Homo sapiens: one gene and its partners. The protein of the gene in region 3 binds, or shares a complex with, the protein of the main gene of each other region. Each region holds a gene or a part of one and is shown on either strand. Other genes may lie near its edges.

What was found. The genes of interacting proteins can lie anywhere in the genome.
Region 1: TFDP1 (region 3) and LIN9 share a complex: the UniProt entries of both Homo sapiens proteins name them as parts of the DREAM complex.
Region 2: TFDP1 (region 3) and LIN52 share a complex: the UniProt entries of both Homo sapiens proteins name them as parts of the DREAM complex.

The regions. Positions count from the first base shown.
Region 1 is NC_000001.11:226,285,165-226,292,164, forward strand, and holds part of LIN9 (protein lin-9 homolog), read right to left. Parts: intron 2,634-7,000; coding exon 2,500-2,633; intron 1,295-2,499; coding exon 1,169-1,294; intron 1-1,168. UniProt on the Homo sapiens protein: Acts as a tumor suppressor. Inhibits DNA synthesis. Its ability to inhibit oncogenic transformation is mediated through its association with RB1. Plays a role in the expression of genes required for the G1/S transition.
Region 2 is NC_000014.9:74,087,956-74,094,955, forward strand, and holds part of LIN52 (protein lin-52 homolog), read left to right. Parts: intron 1-3,276; coding exon 3,277-3,351; intron 3,352-7,000.
Region 3 is NC_000013.11:113,636,705-113,642,061, reverse strand, and holds the end of TFDP1 (transcription factor Dp-1), read right to left. Parts: intron 4,443-5,357; coding exon of another isoform or gene 4,245-4,442; coding exon 4,166-4,244; intron 1,943-4,165; coding exon 1,795-1,942; 3' UTR 589-1,794; downstream 1-588. UniProt on the Homo sapiens protein: Can stimulate E2F-dependent transcription.

The DNA of each region.
Region 1 (7,000 bases), on a different chromosome or scaffold from region 3:
ACAGTAAATAGTGACCAATATCCCACTCTGATGGACAATAATTAGAAACAGTGTAACTCAATTTGCTCAAACACGCAAAATGATAGCAAAAAGTCACCAAATGGCTACTGTAATTACCAAAGGCCATAAATTATGAGTATGAAACACACTAAATAACATATCAAATTTTAATTTTGTTATTATAAGAAATATTAAAAACATCATCATCAAGGTCATCTTGATGACAGTTTAATTAAAAGTTCTCTCTGTATTTCATCACCATCTAAAGAAATCATTAAATCTAAATTCCATTTCTATTTGTCCAAATCACTTTATATTTACAGACCTTCCTTGAACTTTCCCACCATTTAAAATGAAAAAGTCTTGCACATACTTTTTACCAGGCAGATAGACATAATGTGAGAACTAATGATCTAATTATTCTTCTAACATATTTCCAATTTTCACTCAAAAGTAATATAAGGTTTTCCAATGTGTTACCAGGATAACACTGGAAAAGAAAAAATCATTTCACATGAAGAGCAATTCTCAGGAAGTAACATATTAGATAGATTAATTTGTTTTCTACTTTTATATAAAATAAAATAGGCACTTCTGGGAAGGCTCCTGAGATTATAAAGGATTTCACAAAAGATAACAAAAATGTACACAGAACTTTACAGCATCCTTAAATACTTTTTAGGACATTCTTAAATATTTTTTGGAACACAGAGGGACATAGATAATGTAAAACTAAAAAATTACGTTGAAAACCTGTGATCCTAACAAAAATGAAATTGTGCATTTAATTATAAGATGCATACGTATAAACAGCACCTACATTAAAGTTGGTTAACAGGATATATTTAACATATAATCAATTATTCTGAAAAGTTATGTTTTGGTACTAGTCATTTTAAAGATTAAAAAAATCAATGTACTAATGATACTAACAACTATTATTTATTGATTTTATTTTTTAATTCTTTTTTAGAGGAATGGTCTCACTGTGTTGCCCAGGCTAGAGTGCAGTGACTATTCACAGGTGTAATCACAGCATACTACAGCCCTGAACCCCTGGCCTTAAGCAAATACCCCATCTTAGCCTTCCAAGTAACTGGGATTATAAGTACATGCACTGCTACTGGCTTGATTTTATTTTAAACAAAAACAAAAACATTATTTTTACCTCCGTGGTTTTCCCATAAGCCGCCGAATTTTTCCCCATTCTACTCTTGTTAACTTTCTTGTTTTCAAATTAGGAAAAGATTCCTTTAGACATACACAGAAGTCATTATCACCTTCAAAAAGTGGTCTGTAAAACAGATATAGTATTTTAATGGTTACATACAATGTGTTACTTTCTTAAAACACATAAAATCACAAAATGCTAAACTTTCACTTCTACCCCATATATATATATAAACTGGCACAAATTCAAAGTGCTAAAACTAAATCCTTGGCATTTGTGAAACATCTAATGTCGTGTAAAAGTTGCTCAGGAAATATTATTTGTGTTGTGATTCCAAGAGACACTGATTTTTGTTCAATCTCTTATACAGGTATATCCTTTGGGAGGCTATCGTGGCCCTGGCCTTGTATCAGGTGAAGATAAACCAAGTTAGCTACAAAGTATCTTTGTCCCAAAGGAATACCATCACCAAGGAGTCCTCTTTGGAATTAAACCAGTCTTGGGACACTGGAGGACTCCAGAGGGTTAGATTAGCTTGGGGGATCCCAGAAGAACTCAGATTACACTGAGACACCCTGAAAACTCTCTTAAGCCTATGGACAAAAATAAAACAATTCTATTCATGAGTCTGGGAAACCAGGAACCAGTGTTGGCAATGATACATAAATGCCTTGGGCTCAAATATGAACATTCATGAGATTCACAAGCTCCAGAGTAGGCAATTGGTATAGAAAACAGAGAAGGGAAGAAAATATAAATATCCAGCAGAGCAAGCAGCAATGACTGGCATATGAGGAAGGATTATAAATAAGAACTTTTCCTCAGTAAATTCCATTGTTGAATAATTGTATTTCAGCCAAATCTCATACTACGTCATACTTAAGCATATGTGTATACCTAGCGTGCTTAAGTACCACATCCAAACTAGAAAGACTACCCTCTTAAAAATCTTAAGCCATTTTTACCATTAGTAATGGTTTCTCTATGATTATACCAGCACTTAACATCTCAATTATAAAATGAATCTCATTCACTGCAAATAATGGTGTTTTAAGGTATCTCTACTCCATAGTCTTTAAGAATTCTAACACAGAAATTATACCGTAATCAATTCTTCACAAAAATGTACAGTTTTCTTCCCCAAAAAGGATAACAGGGAAGAAAACTATGACAAATAGAATAGATCCAACTGGAATGTGGAACAGAAAAATGAATTTAGAGAAAAATAAGATCAAAGTAGACCTATAGAAAATGTTGTAGCTTAAAACACTTGAAAAACTTAAATTTCTGATTCAAGTAATATTCATAATATAAGCCATGATACATACTTATCTATATTTGAATAGAACCACTCGTATATACACCATTTATGTGCTTTAGGAAGCTTGAGCAGATTACGTAATCGAAAACCAATCTTCTGTGAAGCTTTCTTATCTGGTGTTGACATTGTTGCTGTAAATTTCTATACAATAAAAAAAAGAGATTAATTTATGGCTCCATTAAGTAAAAATGAACATTTATAACCCTGAATAAATTTGCAAAAGGTAAATTATGTTTAAGTACTTAAAAAGGTTCACTGATTCACTGATATTCAACATGGAATTTTGTTGCTGTTTTAAACACTCCGATTATTTTTGATTATTGCCTTTTTTTTTTTTGACAGTCTTGCTCTGTTGCCCAGGCTGGAATGCAGTGGCACAATCTCGGCTCACTGCAACCTCTGCCTCCCGGGTTCAAGCTACTCTCTTGTCTCAACCTCCCAAGTAGCTGGGACTACAGGCGCACGCCACCACACCCAGCTAATTTTTGTATTTTTAGTAGAGATGGGGTTTCACCATGTTGGCCAGGCTGGTCTCAAACTCCTGACCTCAGGTAATCTGCCTGCCTCAGCCTCCCAAAGTGCTGGGATTACTGGTGTGAGCCACAGCGCCCAGCTTAGATGGATACTTTTTTAACCTAATAAAACATTTCTCCCCACTCCAACCCAAAAACCAGTATCGTAATATTAAAAGACGATGAGAACGACAAATATTTCAACTACCACCACTAACCTAGTATGACAAAGATTTCAACTACCACCACTATTTCATAACACTGTTTTGAAGGAATTGGCCAATCAGGTAAGAAGAATAAAATTTAGAAAGAAGATAAAACTACCATTTCCTTGTAGGTGAAAACTCAAGAAAATCAACTGTAACAATTAAAAACAGTAAGAAAATTTAATGAAATGGGTAAATACAAAGTTGATATACAAAAACCATGATTCAAAAAAATCACTATATGTAAATAATAACTGGACAGGCCATAAGAGTTTATATCCTGTTTATAACAGCACAAAAATGGACATAAACAAAAAAATTAAATATGTAGGAATATACTTACGAAACATGCAAGACTGATATGGAAAAAAATTAAGTCTACTGTGAAATACTATGAACTAAGTGGAACTACAATCAGTTCTTAGGTAGTCTCAATGTTACCTATATATATCATTTCCCATAAATTATAATATTAGTCCAATCCCAGTCAAAATGCCAACAGGATTTTTTTTTCCTAGTCAAGTTGATTCTAAAGTCTACATGGAAAAATAAATGCACAAAAATATTTAGGAAAAAATCTTATGCTGGGCGCAGTGGCTCACGCCTGTAATCCCAGCACTTTGGGAGACCGAGATGGGCGGATCACAAGGTCAGGAGCTCCAGACAGCCAGGCCAATATAGTGAAACCCCATCTCTACTAAAAATACAAAAATTAGCCGGGCGTGGTGGCTGTGCCTGTAGTGCCAGCTACTCAGGAGGCTGAGGCAGAAGACTAGCTTGAACCTGGGAGGCGGAGGTTGCAGTGAGCAGAGATCACACCACTGCACTCCAGCCTGGGCGACAGAGTGAGACTCCATGTCAAAAAAAAAGAAAGAAAAGGAAAAAAATCTCAAAAAAAGAATATGTGATAATATCTTACCAGGCATTAAAACACAGTATAAAGTCATGTTAAACCAATTTTGTGTGTGTGTGTGTGTGTGTGTTTTGGTTTTGTTTGTTCTTTTGAGACAGGGTCTCTCTCTCTGTCACTTAGGCTGAAGTGCAGTGGTGCAAACATTGCTCACTACAGCCTTGACCTCCTGGGCTCAAGCCATCCTCCCACCTGAACCTCCCAAGTAGCTGGGACTGCAGGCATGTGCCACCACACTGGGCTAATTCATGCATTTTTTGTGGAGACGGGCTCTCGCTATGTTACCAGGTTGGTCCCAAACTCCTGGGCTCAAGCGATCTTCCTGCCTCAGCCTCCCAAAGAGCTAGGATTACAGGTATGAGCTGCCATGCCCAGCCAAAATAATTTGATACTAGCACATATAGAGATATGCTAGATGTAGAGATAGAAAGCCTGAAAGTAATCCCAAATACTTATACGAATTTAGCTTTGATGAAGGCAGCATTTTAAATCAATGTTTAAAAAGATGGATTACCCAATAAATGTTACTAGGACAACTAAGTAGTCCTCCGGGGGGGGGGGTGGGGGGGGGTGGGAAAGCTAGGTTGCAATTTTACTTCATCCCTTACTGCAAAATAAATTCCAGATGTACTGAAGGTTCAAACCAAAAAAATGAAATATGAGAGAATTCTAAAATGATAAATTTTAGTGTAGAAAAGGTCTTTCTGAGCATGACAAACTCAAGAAGTCATTAAAAGGTAACAAAGTTACATTTGATCCTTAAAATATTTTAAAATCCCATATGTTAAAAAATACAGAAACAAATCAAAAGACAAACTATAAACTCTAAAAAAAATTACAGCCATTATAAACATCCAAAGGGCCAATATTTTTAATATATACAAAATTCTTATAAACTAGTAACACAATGACCCACAATCCAATAGAAAAATGGGAAAAAGGCATAAACAGTTTACAGAAAAGGAAAGAAATAATTTTTAAACATATGAAAAGTGTCTCAACTTTGCTCTTATATAAAATGCCAACTAAAACAAGTGAGAGGCTATTTCTTTTTTTTTTTTTTTTCTTTTTTTTGAGATGGAGTCTCGCTCTGTTGCCCAGGCTGGAGTGCAGTGGCACGATCTCGGCTCACTGCAAGCTCCACCTCCCGGGTTCACGCCATTCTCCTGTCTCAGCCTCCCGAGTAGCTGGGACTACAGGCGCCCGCCACCACGCCCGGCTAATTTTTTGTATTTTTTGTAGAGACGGGGTTTCACCGTGTTAGCCAGGGTGGTCTTGATCTCCTGACCTCGTGATCCGCCCACCTCGGCCTCCCAAAGTGCTGGGATTACAGGCGTAAGCCACCGCACCCGGCCAAGGCTATTTCTATATATCAGATTAGCAAAAATCTAGATGGTTGGTTCTGTACTGAGTTGGAGGCATTTGGAAAATAGGAACTCTAATATATATAAACCAGTACAATTTCTTTCCTTTTTTTAAAAAAATTTTTTAACACAGCGTCTTGCTCTGTCACCTAGGCTGCAGCATACTGACACGATCGCGGCTCACTGCAGCCTTCGCCTCCCAGGTTCAACCTATTCTCATGCCTCAGCCTCCCGAGTAGCTGGGACTACAGGCACGTGCCGCCACACCTGGCTAATTTTTCTATTTTTAGTAGAGATGGGGTTTTGCCATGTTGGCCAGGCTGGTCTTGAACTCCTGACCTCAGGTGATCTGCCCACCTCGGCCTCCCAAAGTGCTGCTATTACAGGTGTGAGCCACTGTGCATGGTCCCAGTTCAATTTATTCGGAGAGTATTTGGTACTGCTTTAAAAACTTTAAATGTACATAATTTACGATCCAGCAATTCCACATCTTAGGCATCTGTCCTAGAAAAAAACTTGCAAATTTATACAAACATGCTCAGGATGTTCACTGCAGCATTATTTGTCAAAGTAAAAATTTACGAACAATTTAAATGCTCCCAAATGGGAGAATTTATAAATAATGATATAAAATTGAATACTATTCAATAGTAAAAAGAAATGAAACACTGAATCCGATTATCTCAATCAATCAACATGGCCAGATCTCAAAAAAAGACAGTGAAAAAATTACAGAATGACACATGGCACAATACCATGAAAATGATACTACAAATGTAATTTTTAGAATACATACATTTAGAAAAAGAAAAAATATATATACATTTAACAATATTAAATATTTTCTATGAATACATTAAAAGTATATTTAAAAGGTTTCATAAGGATAATCAAACTAATTATAGTGGCTGCCACTGTATGAGGGAAGTACATATTGGAATGGTAAGTTAGGGTCAAAATTTTAAAATTTTTATTATAAACTTTGTATTTTGGAAAAGTTGTAGATTTACAGGCAAGTTGCAAAGATAGTACATATTCCCACATGCCCTTCACCTGGCTTTCCCTAACATCAATATCTTATAGTAACTTTGGTATATTTGTCAAAACTAGTGCAATACTATTAACTAAACTACAGGCTTTATTTGGATTTTACCAGTTTTTTCACCAACATCCTTTTTCTGTTCCAGAAACCAATTCAGGATACCACACTGCATTTAGAAAAATAACTTTGTTTTTCTTTGTTTTCCCTCAGTGACCATTCTCAGGAGAAAAAAAAAAATTAAATGTAAAAAGAAGAAAAAAGAAAAAATTTATAAGTGAGGAGATGTTTAGCATAAATAACCAAATTACTATAAAATATTCTTATCACAAAAAGTGTTATTTCTTTCTACTACATTATTGACCCAGATTTTTAAATAGGGTATATAGGGTATTAGCAGCTCATCGAATATAAAACTATATTAAGGACCCGCCTGTTGGGTATGGGAAAATAGATTCAAATTGTTAGAGGGAATCT
Region 2 (7,000 bases), on a different chromosome or scaffold from region 3:
TTGCCCATGCTGAAATGCAGTGATATGATTATAGCTCACTGCACCCTCAAAGGCTCAAGCGATTCTCCCATCTCAGCCTCCTAAGTAGCTGGTACTATAGGCTCACACCACCATGCCCAGCTAATTTATTATTATTATTATTTATTTTGTTTTGAGACGGAGTCTCACTCTGTCACCCAGGCTGGAGTGCTGTGGCATGATCTCGGGTCACTGCAACCTCCGCCTCCTGGGTTCAAGTAATTCTCATGCATCAGCCTCTCCAGTAGCTGGGATAACAGGCACACGCCACCACACCTGGCTAATTTTTGTATTTTGAGTAGAGACGGGGTTTCACCATGTTGCCCAGGCTAGTCTTGAACTCCTGACCTCAGGTGATGCACTCACCTCGGCCTCCCAAAGTGCTAGGATTACAGGCGTGAGCCACCATGCCCCCACCTTATTATTTTTTGTAGAGATGGAGTCTCACTATGTTGCCCAGGATGGTCTCAAACTCCTGGGCTCAAGCAATCTTCCTGCCTCGGCTTCCCAAAGCACTGGGATTCCAGACATGAGCCACTGTACCTGGCCCAATAACTTTACTTTTGTTATGGTTGAACATTCCTCAGAAATCGGTAACAAAGAGAAGCTAATTTTTGGATGCTTTAATTAAGGCAATGTATTAGTTGAGTTCTTTACAATTAAAATGCCATTGGAAATTCCTTTGGAATATTTGGCAAAACAAATTCAGTTTAGAGAAAAGTACATTTTGTACGTATGTATATTTTCTGGGGAGTGAGTTCATTTTATTTCCCAGATTTCCAGAGATGTGGTTACCCAGAAAATGTTAAGAACTGCTGTTTATAGCATTAAATGAACTAGTTATGCAACTGGTTAGCATACTGAGCATACAATAAAAACTCAACAAATGTTAATATTGAGTACTACTGTGTGCAAGGGAAGAGTGGAAGAGAAATGATGTCAAAGAATTAGGTAGAGGCTGAGTAAGATTTTATAGAGTGTGGTAGATACACATTCACAGATTTAGCTGGGAGGAACTTTAAGCTGGAGAGAGACACGAACTGATTGACGTTTAAAAAAATCAATTCTGGCCTCTTTATGGAGAATAGATTCCGGGGGTGTGAAGGGGAAAGGGTAAGAATGGGAGCAGAGAGATCTGTTAAGAGGCTGTTGAAGTAGTCCAAGAAAGAAGTGATGGTTCCTTGGGTTATTTGATTTCAGGGTGTATTCTGAAGGTAGAAACGACTAGATTTACTCATGGATTGGTTATGGAAGGGTGAAGGAAAAGAATGCATGAAGGATGACATCTGGGTTTTTGATCTGAGAATTGGAATTTATGGTAGTGTTATTTCTTGAGATGGGAGAAGATTGGGGGAATATGGTTTTGAAGATAATTAGGTTTAAAGTTTAAGTGGGGATTTTTTTTTTTTTTTTGAGACAGGATGTGGCTCTATCACCCAGGCTGGAGTGCAGTGGTGTGACCTTAGCTAACTGCAGCTGCCACCTCTGGGCTCAAGCCATCCTTCCACCTCAGCCTCCCAAGTAGCTGGGACTACAGGCTGACACCACCACACCTGGCTAATTTTTTTGCTTTTTGTAGAGATGGGTTTTCACTATGTTGGCCAGGCTGGTCTCAAACTCGTGAGCTCAAGCAATCCACCCACCTCGGCCTCCCAAAACTGCTGGGATTACAGGCGTGCACCACTGCATCTGGCCTTAAGCAGTTTTTTTATATGTAAATAGAGAGGGATTCAAATAACCACTTGGACATAAACCTTTGTAGTTCTTTAGAAAGGTTGGGAATGGAAATATAAATATGGAGTCATTGGCATACAGATGAAGATAAAAGTCCTCATGTTGAAATAGGGGAGTTCCCTAACCGCAGGACATACGACAGGGGTGTGGCTTGTCTGTGTGCACTCAATCCTCTTATGGGAGAGGGAGCACGCAGATGGGCAGGTGTAGGAGTCAGGGCGAGCACTTTTGGGCTCCAGCCCCACGGTAGCATCTAGGGGTGGGTGCCTGTGACTCCCAAAGCCCAAGTGGGCATGTATAACAGTGCACTCTTTTTTTTTTTTTTTTTTGAGATGGAGTCTTGCTTTGTTGCCCAGGCTGGAGTGCAGTGGTGTGATCTTGGCTCACTGCAACCTCCACCTCCCAGGTTCAAACGATTCTCCTGCCTCATCCTCCCCAGTAACTAGGATTACAGGTGTGTTCCCCCATGCCTGACCAATTTTTGTATTTTTAGTAGAGACAGGGTTTCACTATGTTGGCCAGGCTGGTCTTGAACTCCGGACCTCAAGTGATCCACCCATCTTGGCCTCCCAAAGTGCTGGGATTATAGGCATGAGGCACCCCACCTGCCCTGGTGTTTTTTGTTTGTTTGTTTGTTTGTTTTTTTGAGATGGCGTCTCATTCTGTTGCCTGGGCTGGAGTACAGTGGTGCAATCTTGGCTCACTGTAACCTCTGCCTCCCGGGTTTAAGCAATTCTCCTCCCTCAGCCTCCTGAGTAGCTGGGATTACAGGCGCCTGCTACCACACCCAGCTAATTTTTTGTATTTTTAGTAGAGACAGGGTTTCACCACGTTGGCCAGGCTGGTCTCAAACTCCTGACCTTGTGATTCACCCGTGTTGGCCTCCCAAAGTGCTGGGATTACAGGCATGAGCCACCATGTCCGGCTGGGGTTTTTTTTTGAAACACAGAAATTCTGCAACCAGCTTGATTGGTACTGCTCCTTTTTAAAGAGATTTTTAAAGAGTTACTTATTTTGTAAAGTTTTATTTATTTTGAAGCTAGTCAAATTTAGCAGTGGGGGGTTGTGTACAAACTTTAGTGACACTGAGATGAGGCTAGAGAAGGTAGAAACTGATGGTACCTGAGAAAGATGATATGCAAATGATGTCCTTGATAAAGCAAGAGAAGATGGCATCTAGAGTGCTATCAGAAGAGTCTGTTTCATGGAAGGAGAAACACTTAATTCATTGTAACTGGAGGAAAGCACAAGAGTATGAATGAAGATGCAGGTGGGTTCATTGATACTCATTTTTCTTAACACTCCCAATAAAATATCATTCCCATTCATAGATTGAAAGAGTGAGGTTTGGTAAGGGAGAATGATTTATTTGTATTCTATCACGGACCAGTGGCATCAATAGTTACAGAACTCATATCTCTAGACTTCCAGGTGAGTGTTCCAGTTTATGTCCTTTGAGATTGAAGTATCATATACATTAATGTGTTTCCTGTCTTCTTGGTTCATCTGGATGTTTTGTTCTAGGGACAGATCTGGAAGCATCTTTGCTAAGTTTTGAAAAACTTGACCGTGCCTCACCAGATCTTTGGCCAGAACAATGTAAGTTTTTGCCTTCTTTATATCAGAGTCAATGCAGGAGAAACAATGTTCCTTTTTAAAGAGATTTTTAAAGAGTTATTTATTTTGTAAATTTTTATTTATTTTGAAGCTAGTCAAATTTAGCAGTGGGGGGTTGTATACAAACTTTAGTGACACTAACGTTAATAAGTTCTGATAACAGGCTGAGCTTGTTGGCTCATGCCTGTAATCCCAGCACTTTGGGAGGCCGAGTTGGGAGGATCACCTGAGGTCAGGAGTTTGAGACCAGCGTGGCCAACATGGTGAAACCCTGTCTCTACTAAAAAAAAAATAGAAATATTAGCTGGATGTGGTGGCACACACCTGTAATCCCAGCTACTCAGGAGGCTGAGGCATGAGAATCTTTTGAACCCAGGAGGCGGAGGCTGCAGTGAGCAGAGATTGTGCCACTGCACTTCAGCCTGTGTGACAGGGTGAGACTCTGTCTCAAAAAAAAAAAAAAAAAAAAAAAAGTTCTGATAACCCATTACCATCAGACCAGGCTGAAGAGTTATCATTTAACTTTAATGATTAAAGTTTTATTTTATTTCAAAGAGAAGAGATTGAAGTCCAGTGTTAAGAATAGCTGTTTGGTGGTTTAATTTGTTCAGAACACAGTGTGACTCAGAAAATAAGGAGCCATTAAACAATAATAATTATTTTGTTTGAACCAGAGTCTCTCTCTGTCGCCCAGGGTGGAGTGCAGTGGTGCACTCGGGTCACTGCATCCTCTGCCTCAGGGTTCAAGCGATTGTCCTGCCTCAGCCTCCCAAGTAGCTGGGACTACAGGTGCATGCCACCATGCCCGGCTAATTTTTTGTATTTTTAGTAGAGACAGGGTTTCACCATGTTGGCCAGGCTGGTCTCGAACTCCTGACCTCAGGTGATCCACCTGCCTCAGCGTCCCAAAGTGCTGGGATTACAGGTGTGAGCCACCGTGCCTAGCCAACAATAATTATTATTATTATATATATGTATATATATATATATGTTTTTTTTAGACGGAGTTTCGCTCTAGTTGCCCAGGCTGGAGTGCAATTGCTCAGTGTTGGCTCACTGCAACCTCTGCCTCCCAGGTTCAAGCGATTCTCCTGCCTCGGCTCCCGAGTAGCTGGGATTACAGGCACATGCCGCAATGCCCGGCTAATTTTTTGTATTTTTAGTAGAGACAGGGTTTTGCCATGTTGGCCAGGCTGGTCTCAAACTCCTGATCTCAGGTGATCCACCCACCTCGGCCTCCCAGAGTGCTGGGATTACAGGCGTGAGCCACCATGGCTGGCCATTAATTACTTTTTAAAACTACATTTATAGGCTGGGCATGGTGGTTCATGCCTGTAGTCCCAGCACTTTGGGAGGCCAATGCGGGTGGATCACTTGAGGCTAGGAGTTTGAGACCAGCCTCGCCAACATGGCGAAACCCTGTCTCTATCAAAAATACAAAAATTAACTGGCCGTGGTGGTGCACACCTGCTATCCCAGCTACTCAGGAGGCTAAGGCACGAGAATTGCCTGAACCCGGGAGGCGGAGGTTGCAGTGAGCCAAGATTGCACTATTGCACTCGAGCCTGGGCAACAGAGAAAGACTCTTTCTCAAAAAAATCCCCCAAACTACACTTATTTGTTTGTTTGTGTATTTATTTATTTGAGATGGAGTCTTGCTCATGTCGCTCAGGCTGGAGTGCAATGGTGCAATCTCGGCTCACTGCAACGTCCGCCTCCCTGGTTCAAGCGATGCTCCTGCCTCAGCCTCCCGAGTAGCTGAGATTATAGGTGCCCGCCACAATGCTCAGCTAATTTTTGTATTTGTAGTACAGACGGCTTTTCACCAAGTAGGTTGGTCTTGAACTCCTGACCTCAGGTGATCCGCCCACCTCGGCCTCCCAAAGTGCCGAAATTTCAGGAGTGAGCCACCACAGCCAGCCCCCAAAACTACATTTATAAGAAATTCACATAATACTGAGATATATAAAGCGTTTTCTCACCTTTTTCAATCACTCTTTTTTTTTTTTTTTTTTTTGAGATGGAGTTTCACTCTTGTTCCCCAGGCTGTGCAGTATAATGGTGCAGTCTTGGCTCACAGCAACCTCTGCTTCCGGGTTCAAGCAATTCTCCTGCCTCAGCCCCCCAAGTAGCTGGGATCACAGGTGCATGCCACCACACCTGGCTAATTTTTGTATTTATAGTAGAGAAGAGGCTTCACCATGTTGGACAGGCTGGTCTTGAACTCCAGACCTCAGATGATCTGCCTGCCTCAGCCTCCCAAAGTGCTAGTATTAGAGGCCTGAACCACTGCACCTGGCCCACTCTTATAACGTTAACCACTGTTAATCGTACAAATCCTTGTAAAAGGTACAACTCCGGCCAGGTGTGATGGCTCACGCCTGTAATCCAAGCACTTTGAGAGGCCGAGGTGGGCGGATTACCTGAAGTCAGGAGTTTGAGATCAGCCTAGCTAACATGGCGAAACCCCGTTTCTACTAAAAATACAAAAAATTAGCTGAGCGTGGTGGCACATGCCTGTAATCCCAGCTACTTGGGAGGCTGAGGCAGGAGAATCGCTTGAACCCGGGAGGCAGAGGTTGCAGTGAGCAGAGATTGCAGTGAGCTGAGATCACTCCATTGCACTCCAGGTTGAGCAACAAGAGTGAAACTCTGTCTCAAAAAAAAAAAAAAAGGTACAAATCCTTTTGACCTATTTTATACAGATAAGGAAATAATAATTTTTTAAGTATGTATAAGAGGGATTTTTTTTTTCTTCATAATGTTGGAGTCATATGCATGTGGCCTGCCACTTAACTTACTCCACATGTGAACAGTTCCATCTTGGTATGTGTATGTCTACTTCATTCTTTTAAATATATTTCATTGTATGGATATATTATAGTTTATGTATTCATACATTATTTGGAAACTTAAGTTATATCTACTTTGTAGTTTTTTTTTTTTTTTAATTTGAGCAAGGGTCTCACTCTGTCACCCAGGCTTTGTGCAGTGGCGTGATCACAGCTGACTGCAGCCTCAACCTCCTGGGCTCAAGTGATCCTCTCACTTCAGCCTCCTGAGTAGCTGGGACCACAGGCATGTACCACCACAACCAGCTATTTAAAAAATTTTGGGGGGGACAAGATCTCACTGTGTTGCCCAGACTGGTCTCAGACTCCTGGGCTCAGGCTGTCTTTCCACCTTGGCCTCCCAGAGCACTGGGATTACAGGTGTGAGGCACTGTGCCTGGCCTATATCTAGTTTTTGACTTTACAGACAGTTTATCAGTGAATACCCATGTACACATATCTTCATATACATGGAAGAGGATAACTGTATGAGGGCCCCTTTCCTCACATACTAGCCAGTATTAGATGTTACTAATCTATTAGTTTCATTTTACATTTCCTTTTTGGTGAGATTGAACTTTTTTTTTTTTGAGATGGAGTCTCGCTCTGTTGCCCAGGTTGGAGTGCAATGGCGTGATCTCAGCTCACTGCAACCTCCACCTCCCGGGTTCAAGCAATTCTCCTGCCTCAGCCTCCTGAATAGCTGGGACTACAGGCACATGCCGCCACACCCAGCTAATCTTTTGTATTTTAGTAGAGACGGGGTTTCACTGTGTTGCCCAGGCTGGTCTCCAACTCCT
Region 3 (5,357 bases):
GGCTCCCAAAAGGGGAAAGAGAAAAATGAAGGAACAGAGGTCGGGGTAGAAAGCTGAAATGGACCAAAATTAACTGCAATGTGCTGACCAAGCCTCCCTTGAAAGCTTTAAGCCTTCAGTAGATTCCGTAGTTACAGAACAGCTGCATCAGGCAGATCCTGCCCGCGAGGTAGACATCTACCTGGGCAGCCAGATTCCTGGTGCTCCCTATTCCACCATCTTCCCAGAATCCTCTCAATCTTATTCTTGTTCTCAAAGTCAAACTTTTAAATTTTGTCTCAATTTTCATTGTGAAAAAAGGCCAAGGAACTTGGCTTATCTTTCTCTGCACCACAGGCACCGAAAAGGAAGGTGCCTCTTTGCCCTGTGTCCACCAAGACCTCCACCCTTGGCCACCTTCCACCTTTTCAGGGTGGGCTCCCGGAGGATGTGCCTCAGACAACATGTGGTGGTGGGGTTTGCACCCACAGGGACCACCCGGGCCCACCGCGTCTGGGCCTAACAACCTACTTTCTCACTCAAGTATAAAGTAAAACCAACAAGACAGACAAATTTCTAGATAATAATCCTGAATTAGAGAAACACAGCTTGTTTAAAATGCCCATGCGCGTTTTATTAATAAAAACTAACAGTGCCAAGTTAAACAAGTCAAACAATTAAAGTCTCTTTATATACCATAAAATATTACAGAAAAGTTTATTTGTGTTTCAATAAAAAGACTATCGTTTTAGAACAGGCAGCTAATAGCAACTGTGCAGTTAATGGGTTTTGTGAATAAATTTTAAAAGAGACTACTGCCTGTCCTTAAATTCCTTTTTCTTTTTATAAAAAAAGAACTATTAAAAATGATTGACAAATTTTGAGTTAAAAAATTGTTAAAACATTCTCTATATTTAATTTCAATTTTATAATAGATTACAGGAAGATGCTTATGAAACAAATACATTTGTTTCAGTACATGTCTTTAAATGATAGACTTATAAGTATGTAAACAACTATATAATAAAAGGTTTCCAAACGCTGCCTGTAAGAAATCAGGCAAATTTTACCATAAGCAATAAACCATTCCAAGCCTTCCAGACAGTCTCCATAGCCGCACCAGCATGGCAATAAGCTTTAACCAAACGAAAACAAACAAACAAAAGCACTTCGCAATTTGTTGCTGCAAAACAGGGAGAGAAAAGAGTGTACAAACTTGATGGAATCACAACAGTCAATATAATTTAAGGGACAATAAAGTCAATAAGGTTGATGGTGTTTATTGTTTAAAAAGTTGAATTCTGCTGTTTGCTTGGGGCTGTTTAGAAAGTTGCATTCTGCTGTTTGCTTGGACACCGTACCACTGAACAAACTCCACAGAGTCTTGCTATCCGCCAGCAGGGGTGCCGTCCAAACTCACGGCAAATAAGCGGCATCAGGGGCTCACCATCCACAACAGGAGGTGTTTTATTTTCATGGATGTGGTTGAAATACAATTTCTTCAGCAAACTCAGCAAAAACTTTTCAGGGGCAAAAATGAACTCTGCACTTAAAGAAAAATAGCAAATGAAAACACAAAATCCTAACAAGTAAATAAACGCTCTGCATCAGCACACTGGTATCAAAACACACATCCACAGCACGTCCTAATCCTACGGGAAACAATCCTTGCTTATCAGAGGTGCATATCTAAATTCAATAGCTTACCAATATCTTCTTGGGAGTAGGCCAAAAGGAAACAGAAAACCCACATTAAAAAAAAAGTTTCTTTTCGCTAAACGTTTTCCTGAAGCCGAATCTGAAGTGGGGAGGACGTCAGTCGTCCTCGTCATTCTCGTTGAAGTCATCGTCCTCCTCGTCGTCCTCCCCGACGTAGGACACCGGAGTCTCCACCCTGGAGCCGCTGTACTGAGACCCATTGGAGCTTGTGGCCAGCATCCCATCTGCACCGTTGGTCAGGTCACTGCAAGGCAGGAGGCGGATGGCGCCGTCAGTGCAGGCGGCCCACCCAGCCTCCCCCCGCCTCAGGGCTTGTGGTCAAATGACAGGCTGTGCCCCACAGGTGTGGGTTTTGTCAGTCACACAAACAGAACGGGGAGGCTGAGTGTCTGCACTACAGCACGCCAACGCTCTGGCACTTACTCCATCTCTGTCTGGTTCTCTTCTGGCCCTGTCTCCTGGAACCCATAACGACAGAAACAGGAGGCTGAGCAGAGCCACACGCTGCCTCTCCCTCACTCATCATTCCATCAGGAGCAGTGCCCCAGAGGGAACAAACTGTAAAACCATTAGATCCCTCCCTCCGGGACTTTCACTCATAACCAGCAACAGGAAAAAAGAGAGCCCGGGGCAGGACAGGATGGAGTCCAGAGCGTGGGTCGAATCTGGCAGCGGGGACTGAGAACCCAGAGGGCTGGCAGCACCACAAAAACCTACCACCAACCAGAGCTCACTACGTTCCTAATGTTTAAAGATGTTTTCAATTAACATAAAACCATATGTACATATTTTAATACATTTTAATGGTATTTATTAACACTACAATAAAAATGTGTTAATGTGCCTTTTGATGAAGTAATTCTGTATCTTGGAAACAAGTCAGAAATGGCGAGAAATTCAGCTGTAAAGCTGCTCACTGCAGTTTTTATTCTAACTGGGAACTACCTAGATGTCCTTTCATGAGGTACTTGTATAAAATGTCTCATCATGCCACTATGAAAATCGGTATTTCGTAAGAAATGGTAATAGCTTTGTTTCCATTGTTATGAAAAACTGACAAGTCTGAAGAATCACATCCATAAAAAGGATTATGTGATGATAAAAGTCCTAAAAATACCCACATCCCACCTCATGGAAGAAGCAGCATTAAACATGTTTACAGACTGACCGCCACACGTTCACACATAGCTACAACAGAAGGAGAACCGGCCTCTGTCAAAAGCTTGTCACCAAAGTCCTTTCTTCCATCACCACCTCACTGATCCTTGCCACAGATCAGTAACTCATCAATCACCAGTCTCACCTTACAGGTGAGGAGGCCAAGGCTGGCTTTGCACTTCCAGAGCTGGCCAGGAAGCTACACGTGCCCGACACACCTGTTACATCTCATGGCCACAGCACATCCCAACGCAGGCTCAAGCACACTGAAACTCACTATGTCGAGCCCTGTTACCCGGACCCATAGGTTACTGAGTTCTTGTATTTCTAATTAAAGATTTTATTAACACTTAAGATTAATATAAAGTAATACTATATATTGTATCACAATGCAATATAAAAGTTAATAAAATCATTGTTTTGTTAATATTTACCATAAAAGTTATATTTATCTTTGAAGCACTAAGATCAATACCTAGGGACACCATTCTACTCTGTGGGATTGCAGGTCAAAGATTAAATACAAATTTATTTAAATAAAGGCCCTTTAATAGCATAGAAACAATATATATTCATACAATAAAATGTAAGCTGAAAAATGCACGGAACAAAATATGTGTGCTGTGACCACAGACGCGTTCTGAAAAATACGTGCGCTGTGATTGCAGACGCGTTCTGAAAAATACGTGTACCATAATCACAGACGCGTTCGCAAAAATACATGCACTGTGATCGCAGCACGTGCGCCGAGACCGCAGACGCGTTCTGAAAAACACGTGCGCCGTGATGGCAGACGTTCTGAAAAATACATGCGCTATGACCATAGATGCATTCTGAAAAACACATGCACCATGACCGCAGATGCGTTCTGAAAAATGTGTGCTGTGATCGCAGACACGTTCTGAAAACTACTTGCGCCCAGACCGCAGACGCGTTCTGAAAAATACGTGCGCTGTGACCGCAGACGCGTTCTGAAAAATGGGAAAAAAAACCTGGAAATACTTGCTGTTACTTGGGCTGCCGGGGACAGGAGGATTTGGGTGGTTTTCATTCCTACTTTACTTATTAGGTGATACTATGAAAAAAAAACCACCATGTATTACTTTCAGTTTTTAGTGAGCAGAAACCAACTAAGAAAAGCAGCTCTCCACACAGGGAAAGCCAGCGGGGCCCCACTGCCTGGACAGACAAGCCACGTCAGAGCAGCCACAGACCTGATGGCCACACCTGAGACGGCTGCCCTGCCTTGGCCCCTGGACCCCGGGGGAGGCCCAGATGACGCCTCTCCCACACCCTCAACGACTGTCACCTGGCAGAGAACCTTGTGCCGTTAGACGTGGAACCTGCCGTCGTGATGAACACGCCTCCAACAGTTCCCTGAGCCATTTCTGAAAAGGGAAAGAAAATAAGCGAATGGTCATGAAACAGAAACAACACAAGACGCACAGGCAACCAACAAAATGACGCGCAGTTCCACAGGACAGACGGCTGTAGAAGCTTCCGGATATCCTTCGCTTGTCCAGTATTTTCCACACTGCGCCACGGAGCAGGACATCCCGCTGTGCAGTCACATAAGCCTGTCTTCTCTAAAAAGGCAAGAACAGCCTTGCAATAAATACCTGCACACACTGACTTACAAACGGCACACGTGTGCTGCTGCCTCAGTATCATACCCATCGTGAAACGGAACCGAATCAAAGTGTCAAGCTGAAACCCTCTTCCCACAGCCCATCCTGGCAGCTCCATGAAGCACGGGACAGAGGCCGGGGTCAGGGCCCAGCCCACGTGGGCGGCCAGAGCCCACTGTCACCTGACAACATGGACCAGCCAGATTTTCACAAGATCTGGGGCAGTCTAAGAGCTCAGGGAGGAATCTCTGACCCTCTCAGGGAATAAATCTACACCCCAAGTTTAGGCTAACAAGAGAAGGATCAGCAGATATGACACCTTCACAATTTCTCACCTTAAAGCCATCCTGCTGTCAGTGGCTGGGACCCTACGGCCCCCAAGGAAAGAATTCACCAGAACAGAAAAAAAGCTCCTTCAACAAAAGCTCCTGTGCTCCCGGCCCTCCGGAGCAGGACGCCAATGACTCTGAAATGCTTTTTCTTGGTGACTTTGCCCTAGTGACCAATCAGCTACCATCAGTGGGTGGGATCAGCAATCCAACTGCACTTCTCAAAGAATCTCAACTTCTACTTCTGGGCCTACTTGGAGGGTAAAATCCTGACTTAGCACCTCCTCACACAAACCACATAGGAAATCCACACGAGCCACCTGTGGACTCAAGGCCCCCATATCCAGTGGGTCACGGCACTGGCTGGACCCCACCCCAGCCACACCCCTGCCCTCATCCCCCTCACAGCCCCTTTGTCTTTGCTCCTGGCCCTACACACGTGGGCCTGATCTCAGCAAGACACATCCCGAGCCGGGAGGGGAGGGCACCGTCGGAGGCTGGGGGCCATTCCTCACACAGCCACGCCAGGTTGTCTGGGCATTGC